Regions from separate parts of the Homo sapiens genome. Here region 1 is linked to region 2. The links come from fine-mapping of genetic effects on plasma protein levels. A gene starts in region 2. The other region holds a variant in brackets. All regions are shown on one strand. Distances are from middle to middle.

Region 1 (4,397 bases), 38 kb before region 2:
TAATATGAGACTTGTATGTTGGGCAAGGGTTTGCCAGAAAGAGCAGTGAGGAGAGCACCCCAGGGAATGGGAACACGTGCAAAACCATGGCTGAGTTTCAGAGCATGGTGTATTGGAGGAAGTTCACATTGACCATGTTGTCCACAATGGCAAAAGCTCAAGAGGCTGGTAGGGCCAGATCACGGGTGGTGGTGCATGTCATGCTAAGACATTTTGATTTGATCCTATAGGAGGTGAGAGCTACTGAAGAATATGAGAAGTGGATGACACAATCAGATGGATTAGCTAGGAAGAGCCCTTCGGTGGTGATGGAGAGAACAGGATTCAGCAGAGTGGGAAGGGGGGACCTGGCAGTGGGCATGGGAAGGAAGAAATGGTTATCAGAAACATTTAGAAAATATAACTAAAGGACTTGGTAAGTGGAAAAGCGAGAAAGGTAGGAGTCTAGTTCTGGCTAGATAATTAGATAAAGAGTGATACTATTCACAAAGACAATGACTACAGAAGAATAGCAGATTTGAGATAATAGGAAGAGAAAATCAATTTCTATTTGTAACATTTGAGTACCTGAAACATGTAATTATACTTGCTACATAGTGGGTGCTCAAAAGGTATGTTTTATGGGCTGAATGCTCAAAAGAACAATGAATAAAAGAAGGAATAACAGATGAGTATGTGGACACTCGGATTCAGATATTTAGCAGGGACTGCGATAGGTCTGAAGTTTAGGAGACCTTGGAACTAAAGATACAAATTTTGGACTTACTGGAGTGCACAGAATTTGTGAAGGAAGGAATGTACAGAATGAGCAGAGAAGAGAGCATAGGAAGACTATCATAATCACTATATTTAGCAAAGTCTGGAAGTCATTGGTGCCCCTTAACAAGAGCAATTTCAGTGCAGCAACAGGAGTAAAAGCCAGTTTGTAAAGGCTGAGGAATGAATGGGAAGTAATCAAGTAAAGATAGGCAGTGATTCCTAATTCTTCAGGAAACCTGGTCATGAAAAGGAAGGCAAAAAAGAGGGCCATTGTGAGAGGGGATTGGCAGCATTAAGGCAGGTTTTGTTGTTTTTAAAGACAAGGGGGTCCAAAACAGAGGACATTTTGCAAAATAACTGGCTCATGCTCATCAAAATGTCAATGTCATAAAACACAAAGACTGGGTACTGTTCCAGATCAAAGGAGACAAACTTATGAAAACTGCGTGCTACCAGGATCTGGGATTCTTTTTTGCTGTGAAGGACATCACTGAGACAAGTGAGATTGAAAAGATCTGTAGATCAGATAATAGTGTTTTATTAATTTTAATAACCTGATTTTGATGATTTTATTGGGGTTACGTAAGAGAATTCCCTTAATTTTAAGAAATGTACACTTAAGTACTTAGGGACAAAGGAGCATCAGGTCTACAACTTGTTCTCAAGTGGTCCAGAAAAATGTTTCTACCCACATGCACACCATAATATATGGGAACTTTTTGGTACTATTCTTGTACGTTTTCTGTATGTCTGAAATTATGTCAAAATAAAAGTTAAAAAGAAAAATAAAAGATAGGAGCATCCTTTCATGGACTGCCCTCACCATATACACAAATTTGCTCTTCTTTTGCAGTGACCAACTTCAAGCTTACCCCAAATTGCTCGTTTTTCTCCTGACTGTGGTTTGCCTGAAGGTATGCCTCAGGGGCATCATCAGTAAAGTCATCACCAAATACTTTAAATTCTATGAAAACACTACCTAAGAAAGAAAGACTTTCACAAAGTACAAGTTGAGAAGGGTCCTGGGTCCTGGGGACCATTACTTACCTGTGTATGACAACATCTTTCTGCTGCCCTACTCGGTAAATTCGGTCACAAGCTTGATCTTCAAGTGATGGATTCCTGTTAGAAGACAGCTAAAGCTCAAAGGAACTGACATACTAGATCAGAAATGGCAAACTATGGGCCATGGGCCAAATCCAGCCCACAGCTTGTTTTTGTAGCTAAAAATTATTGTTACAGTTTTAAAGGGATTTAAGAAAAGAAAGCAAAGCAAAACAAAACACACACATCATGTGACAGAGAACTATGTGGCCTGAAAAGCCTCAAAGAAAAAAAATCTGTCGATCCCTGTCCTAAGCTATACTGGCCTAAGACAAGCTGGTGCCAGATACCTTCTTGCCTAGTTTCTAGTGAGAAACTAGGGTCAGACTGTTAATAATAGCTCTTAGCACTATCATCAGTTGACAACTCTTAAGTAACAGAGGTGAAACCAAAACTCAGGTCTGGTCTCTAGGTAGCTAGATGTCCTTGGGCAAGTTATTTAACCTCAGTCCTCTAGGCTTCAGATTGCTACTTGGAAATTGAAGGGCCAGCTAATGATCTTGACTAGCTGCCTTTTTCAACTTGAATATTCTGTGATTCGATTAAGGAGACTTAATTTGTTTCCTTCTTTATTGATTCCCATTGTAACTCCAAATTAGTTTCTCATCTTACCTCTTTAAAATCTTGGATAACATTTCTCTATCTCTGAAAAAAAAAAAAA[AG/G]CATGATTCCTAGTATGCTTTCCTCACTCACGTGTACAGAGGAGTCCCAAGTAAGAACTAAACCCGTTCTCCTGGAAGATGATAACAGGTTGACCTATTTGTACCCATCTGGGCTGTCTGGAGAATTGGACCAATGACAATCCCCAGCAGCAATCCTTGATTGGCATAACTGGAAAACCAGAAACTGGTACTCATTATGAGATTTTCTGTTAGCAACACACTAACTCATTCATTCTGTAGCCACGAAAGATGTGGTTGTACTCCTGGTATTAACACTACATACAATGAATCCAAGGGTGAGGTATTAAGTGTATTTCTAACATAATTAGAAAATCCCTATTCCTTTTCTTTTTGGAGTAATGCTTCTCCCTCTTTTCAAAGGTTGAAATTTCCTTGGACCCCAACAAGTGTGTCTGGAATACAGTATTCTGGAGAAGAGGTAAAACTGAGCAAGGTTAACTCTTAGCCATGAGGAAAAGCTATGCTCCCCGTTTCCATGGAAACAGATGTTAGACTAACAATAACGTGAATGAACTATTTTGAGTAGTCATTTGAAGGCTTGCTAGCTCAGGAATTCAGGGGAGTCAGCTAGCCCTATACCCTGCTTAGATCTGTATCTATAGACACATACAAAGCAAGGCATCTCTGCAATACGAACACAGCAATCAACATAAGAAGTCAGTTCTTGCTGCCCCTGTAGCCCACTGGCCTCCTTGATGTGCTGTGACAACCCAGGACAAATCCGGAATCATTACCAGTGCATGTCCAAAAGAAAGAGGTGATTTCCTCCAGTCAGGTTTAGACCAACACCTCCGGCCAAGAGAGAGATTAGCATTACCTTCAAAAGGAAACACAACATTAACTTTAAACAGACTTGGTCTCGTAACACATCTCGGTCTCAGGTTTAAGTCCACAATCAATACAGATAAGCACTGTGTTCCTATCAAATTTCCTTCTGCTGTTATAAATTGTTTTTTTTTTTAACATTATAATGCTATCTCCCATGTCTCACTTTTGAGAAAATTCTCACATCACATTTTGTGTGTGTGTGAGTCAACCTCAAAAAATTAACTGAGTGCTTGCCAAAATATATAAATACTGTAATTTAGAACCCTGGGGATGGTCAGCTCAATAAACTTTCAATTAACCAGATTATGTTTATTTCATCAGTCCCTACCCCTCCATTGCTACAATAATTCTCCTGCCTATCATTCTACTAATGCTTTCCAAATCTTTATTATCTATAATTAGATGCCTGTGTTCTTTCATTTCCTTCCATATTTCCTCATACCAAAACCCCACCTATCCTTCAAAGCTTGCCTCCTCTGCAAAGATTCCCCTCAACCTAACCAGCTCTGCTGTTAATCTCCTTTTAGTCCTCATATTTGATTCTTTTTAGAATATTTGTGCTCTTTAAAAGTATCCCAATACATGTCTAATAAATTCTAAACACTCGGAGGAATCAAGGCTGTAAATATTTTTAAGTTGCCATATCAGAATTCTCTTTATATGGCTGGGCACGGTGGCTTACGCCTGTAACCCCAGCACTTTGGGAGGCCAAGGCAGGTGGATCACCTGAGGTCAGGAGTTCAAGACCAGCCTGGCCAACATGGTGAAACCTCATCTCTACTGAAAATACAAAAATTAGCCAAGCTTGGTGGCAGGAGCCTGTAATCCCAGCTACTTGAAAGGCTGAGGCAGGAGAATCGCTTGAACCCGGGAGGCGGAGGTTGCGGTGAGCCAAGATAGCACTATTGCAGTCCAGCCTGGGCAACAAGAGCAAAACTCCGTCTCAAAAAGACAAAAACAAAAACCAACCAAACAAAAAGAATTCTCTTTGTATAACTCAGAACAGTTAATTATGCGGCTCTG
Region 2 (4,397 bases):
GACAGCCAAAAGACACTTAATACATATACAAATTTTGTTTTTTAAAATGACTTTTAAAGAACAATCCTAATACATACCTGGCTACAACTCTTTCAGGGAGAAAAAAAAAAAAAAGCAAATACACTTAGATGTTCCTTTTGGACCCTTACCTGTATTCTTTCTTGTCCTGTGGCAGAAGCAAACCCTGAAGCTCTACCACAAAGTCCTCATGCAATAAGCAATGGGAAACAGGAATGCTAGAGAAAAGAAAAAAGTTGAAAACATTTTTAGGTCAGGAACAGAGATCAATATCCTAAAGTCAAATCAAAACTATGGGTTTTTACACCAAGAATCTATGTATAACCTCTACTGGGTTTGTAATTCCCACACATTATCACAGCTATGGGCATTCCTTTGGGGAAGAAGTCCCTAGCTTTCATCTTTACCCACTTTCTCAAATAAAGCATAACTGTTTCTTGATGACTCAAAAGTTTAAAACCACACTGCACTGTGTAATCTCTACACTGGGATCCCCCTACGAATGACATAATTAGGGCTGGCTGTGAGGCCCTGTATGAATTTTCCCCAGGCTCTTCCCTTCATCCTTTCCCTCTAACAAGCTGAGAGCTGTCACTTAGTGTTATTCACACGCCTACCTCTAACAATACGCCCTATATGCTTCTTGTTTTGTGTAAGTTTTTAATCACTCCCTTCCAACTTATTATGAAAAAATTTAAATATATATAACATTTGAGAGTAAACAGGTTTGAGTGAAGGTTTAAAGTACTCTCCTAAACCTGTGGCACTTTTTTTGGCCTGTATATTGGTTATCAGATATAGTCCAAATAAATCAAGTTTATCAAATAATTGTCTTCAAATACCACTGTGCTAGTTTGTATAGCAAAGCATTTGTGTAGATGGGATCCTAAATAAGAGTGTTTCTCTTAATGTAAAACCAAATCTTATGCCACCATTAATGTTGAATTCCTGCAAAGGTAAAAATGCTTCTATCTCACAAAACTTGACCTGGGTACTATATCTGAGAGGCTCAGTGTAAATCATCTAACTCATGAAACAGAAACATGGGAAGTTAGTATACATGTTGAAAGGGCACTTTTCTAATACTGATATCCATTATGTACTCTACATCTGACACGGAGAAAAATAACTTTTCTCTACCAAGTTTTGCTGAATAGAGAGCAGGAGATGTTTAATGATGTGATGATAGTTTTAAAATTCACATAGAAAATGTAGACACTTGGTACTGTGAAAACATTAACACTTGACAAACTATTAACTTTCCTCACTTTAGAGAAGATGCTTAACATTTCTGACTCTCTCCTCCCACCTCAGCCTCACGAGTAGCTGGGACTACAGGCGTGTGATACCATGCCTAGACAATTTTTTTTAATTTTTCGTAGAGACGGGATTTCACCATGTTGCCCAGGCTGGTTTCGAACCCCTGGGCTCAAGCGATTCGCTCGCCTTCGCCTCCCAAAGTGCTGGGATTACAGGCGTCACACACCGCGCCAGGCCCTCCGTTGTTTCTTCCAGCGCTAATTTCTTTGAATTATCAATTTCACCATTTAGATGCAGAGAATCCTACTTAAAAATAAGAAGGCTAACAACTAATCACTAGAGTGTTTTAAGCTCAAACATTTAAAAAAAACCGTCGGGCCTAAAACTAGTGCAAAACAGGGACAAATTATTTTCCACTATGTCTGCTGTGTGTCCTTACTCCTTTAAAGGGGGAGGGACTGTCTGGGCAGGAGAAGGGAGTGGTTAAGGCCTGTCAAGTGAATAGAAACCCAGAGCTGGAAAACACCGGATCCTCAATTTTACAGGTAGGGGAACCATCGGCCCAGAGAGGGGGGTAACCAGCCTCGGGTCACACAGCCAGAATTAGCTGGGCGTCTTCCGAACACGCCACGCTGCCCTGGGATCACCAATTGCTTAAAGGGTCCTGACACCGCAAACTAGGGCCCCACCACTCCTCGGCCCTGTGACGCCCGACAGCGGGGAGCGGGAAGCTCCTCTCGGGAGGCCCCGGGCAGCCACAGGGAGTGGGGCCCAGCTCCAGACCTACTCGGTGGCCCGCACGAAGCTGCACGTGTCTGCCCGGCACACGTAGAAGCTCTTTCCTTTATTCGGGCCATCGCGGACGCCGGTCTTAAGAAAGCAGAAAGTCCCTGAAGAGAGAAGAAAGTGAACAACGATTACGCCACGCTAAATCAACAGGCCCCGGGACGCTGAGACCCTAGCCCCTTACCGTGCTCTGGACACCTAACTTCTTCCATTTCGCTGGGTCCCCCAAGTTCCACAAAGCCCCGCCCCCAATTCTGCTTCCGCCTTTTACTCCGCCCTCTTTGTTCAGGAACCAACCATCACTCAGCTCTTGCAGTCTTAATCCCTCCCATAATTCTCCGCCCTTGGCCTTCACCCGTCCTAGCCGCTATCAGCCAATCATATAGGAACTTCGCTCACCTCCAACCAATCACAGCTGCCCTCAGGTATGGCGCGCGCCGAAATCAAATACGGAGCCAGGGGGCGTAAAGGACCCGGCTTTTGCAGGCTGGGGCGTGGCTGAGGCTGGGGAGAAGCTTAGAAGGTGGCGGGGCTTCTGGAGGAAAAGAAGCTTCGATTTGCAGGTCTTGGAAGACGGAAGGGCAACTCTTGTTTACGTTTAAAACCGAGAGGCGGCCCTAGGGGTAGCGCCAGTTAGCAGGCGCTGAAAGGCCCTGGCTTCGTGGGTGTCTCTGAGCCAGGCTGGCGCTCGTGCGCGCTGGGCTCCGCGCTCAGTCGCTGGGGTGGGAGGCCAGGGGAAGCCGCCGCTGCAGGCCGAGCCGCGAGATTTGCAGTGCAGGAGCCGAAGCGGCGGGCATGGTGGGAGGTCCTTGGAAGCTGCTGCGGGGAACTGAAACGGCTCTGATAGGCAGGCACAAAGACTTCTCTAGGACCCCCTACAATGCTTTACGTTTGCCTCGTGCTTTAGATTTCACAAAGTGCTTACACATAACACGACCCTCCTCACTCGACCTGGTGAGATGGGTAGCATTTTGTGGAAGATTCCGAGACTCAAGTTTGAGAGACTCACCCAAGGTCAGAGTTGGCGAGTGGGCGGTCCGTGGACAGGTGCGCAGGTCTCAGCGCCATTTGGCCCGCGCTGCTGCTTCCTGTGTGTACTGGATGTTCTCTAGGCTCGCCCAGCGTGGAAGCCCCGAGTTACCAGCCGCAACGTGGAAACCACAGAAGGGGAAATAGATGACTTTTGGTGAAGGCGAATTTTACTTTATCATTTTGTATTGTCAAACTTTTTTTTACTATTATGCTTTTGTAATTTTAAAAATCGAAGACGAGGTTAAATAGAAGAAAGGGGACAGTTCCCTTCTATTTAACTTCATCCTCGATTTTTAAAATTTGAAGTTGTAATCAAAACTATTAGTAAACAGAGAGGAATAGATATTAGATTTATTGCAATAGAAATAGTTTCATATTGCAGCTATTGAGGACCATATGTCCCAGACATATGGTGTGGCACCTGCACTGTTCTTATGGGGGCCGTAGAACAGAAAATCTGTAATGTCTAGGAAATCTGGGCGATGTGATAAATGTACATGTTATGGGGATCCGGAGGAAGGGAGACAAACCTGAGGTATCATTTATTAATTAAACAGTACTTACTAAATAGCTTTTTTGTGCCCGTTGTGGACTAGGTGCTTGAGAAATGTAAAATTCATTCATTCACACACACAAAGTTTGAAACAACTATTCTAAGCACAAGGAACTTACTCAGTATTTTGAGGAGACTGAACTAGTACATGTTGAACACTTAAATAACAATATAAAATAGTATTTAAATGTCAAAATGAATGGAGTTAGCAGTAACTCTCTAGGACTAGAGAAAAATGGAATTTCCAAAGTGAAGTTCCTTTATACATAACTACCCTTCCGAAACTTAGATGAACTTAGAGATAAGACAGGAACAACAAATAGGTAGAAGCATTTTCATTATTCCAAGATTGTTATTCTTGCAAATGATGTATTTGTACATGTTTAATAGATGCTGTATTGGAGGTAGTATACCATGAATACAGGATTTGCAGAAAGAGGGGCATGGTAATTAATTATTTCTTGAATAATTTTCGAAACAAGGCAAAATCGGGGCCTCTTAAATATCCCGTTAAGGAAGAAGCTCCTCCTCTGCAAGTACCCAAGTCGGTATCTCCAGTCCAACCTCACAAAAGTGTGCACAGCCAAATCACAGACAGGAGGAATATTTCTTCCATAAATTAAAAATATACTAGATCAAAATGTTAAGTCCCTGGACAACTTATTCCACCTCATCATATTTACAAGATTGAAAAAAATAAGTTTGAGATTGGACGAAAGATGGTCATAACTGGAAACATTTTTAAAAT

Direction of the effects. Positions count from the first base shown, and alleles are read on the strand shown. Strength reflects both the effect of a copy and how common the allele is.
In carriers of allele AG in region 1, the plasma level of the protein whose gene starts at base 2,297 in region 2 tends to be lower than with G alone (weak association).

What was found. A credible set is the group of variants that fine-mapping cannot tell apart. PIP is the posterior inclusion probability: the model's chance that the variant is causal. Protein levels are from antibody-based Olink assays in UK Biobank. Linkage for the fine-mapping came from a reference panel and not from the study's own genotypes, which makes the PIPs less certain.
Region 1: its variant is the best candidate, but not a certain one, in a credible set for the plasma level of the TTF2 protein (UK Biobank, PIP 0.74).

Annotation. Positions count from the first base shown.
Region 1 is chr1:117,096,317-117,100,713 of GRCh38, reverse strand. It overlaps TTF2 (transcription termination factor 2), which reads right to left. Exons shown (of 23, transcript NM_003594.4): 21 at 3,281-3,363; 22 at 1,807-1,881. Among named protein-coding and RNA genes, the nearest start is that of MIR942, 3.9 kb to the right of the region's middle. The variant AG/G (reference allele first, on the strand shown) is at 2,525.
Region 2 is chr1:117,058,226-117,062,622 of GRCh38, reverse strand. TTF2 (transcription termination factor 2) reads right to left here and starts at 2,297. Exons shown (of 23, transcript NM_003594.4): 1 at 2,249-2,297; 2 at 2,066-2,168; 3 at 150-236. The coding sequence starts at 2,276. It overlaps CD101-AS1 (CD101 antisense RNA 1), which reads left to right and starts at 3,133. Exons shown (of 4, transcript NR_110786.1): 1 at 3,133-3,250. RefSeq lists an enhancer at 2,597-2,756 and a silencer at 3,177-3,226.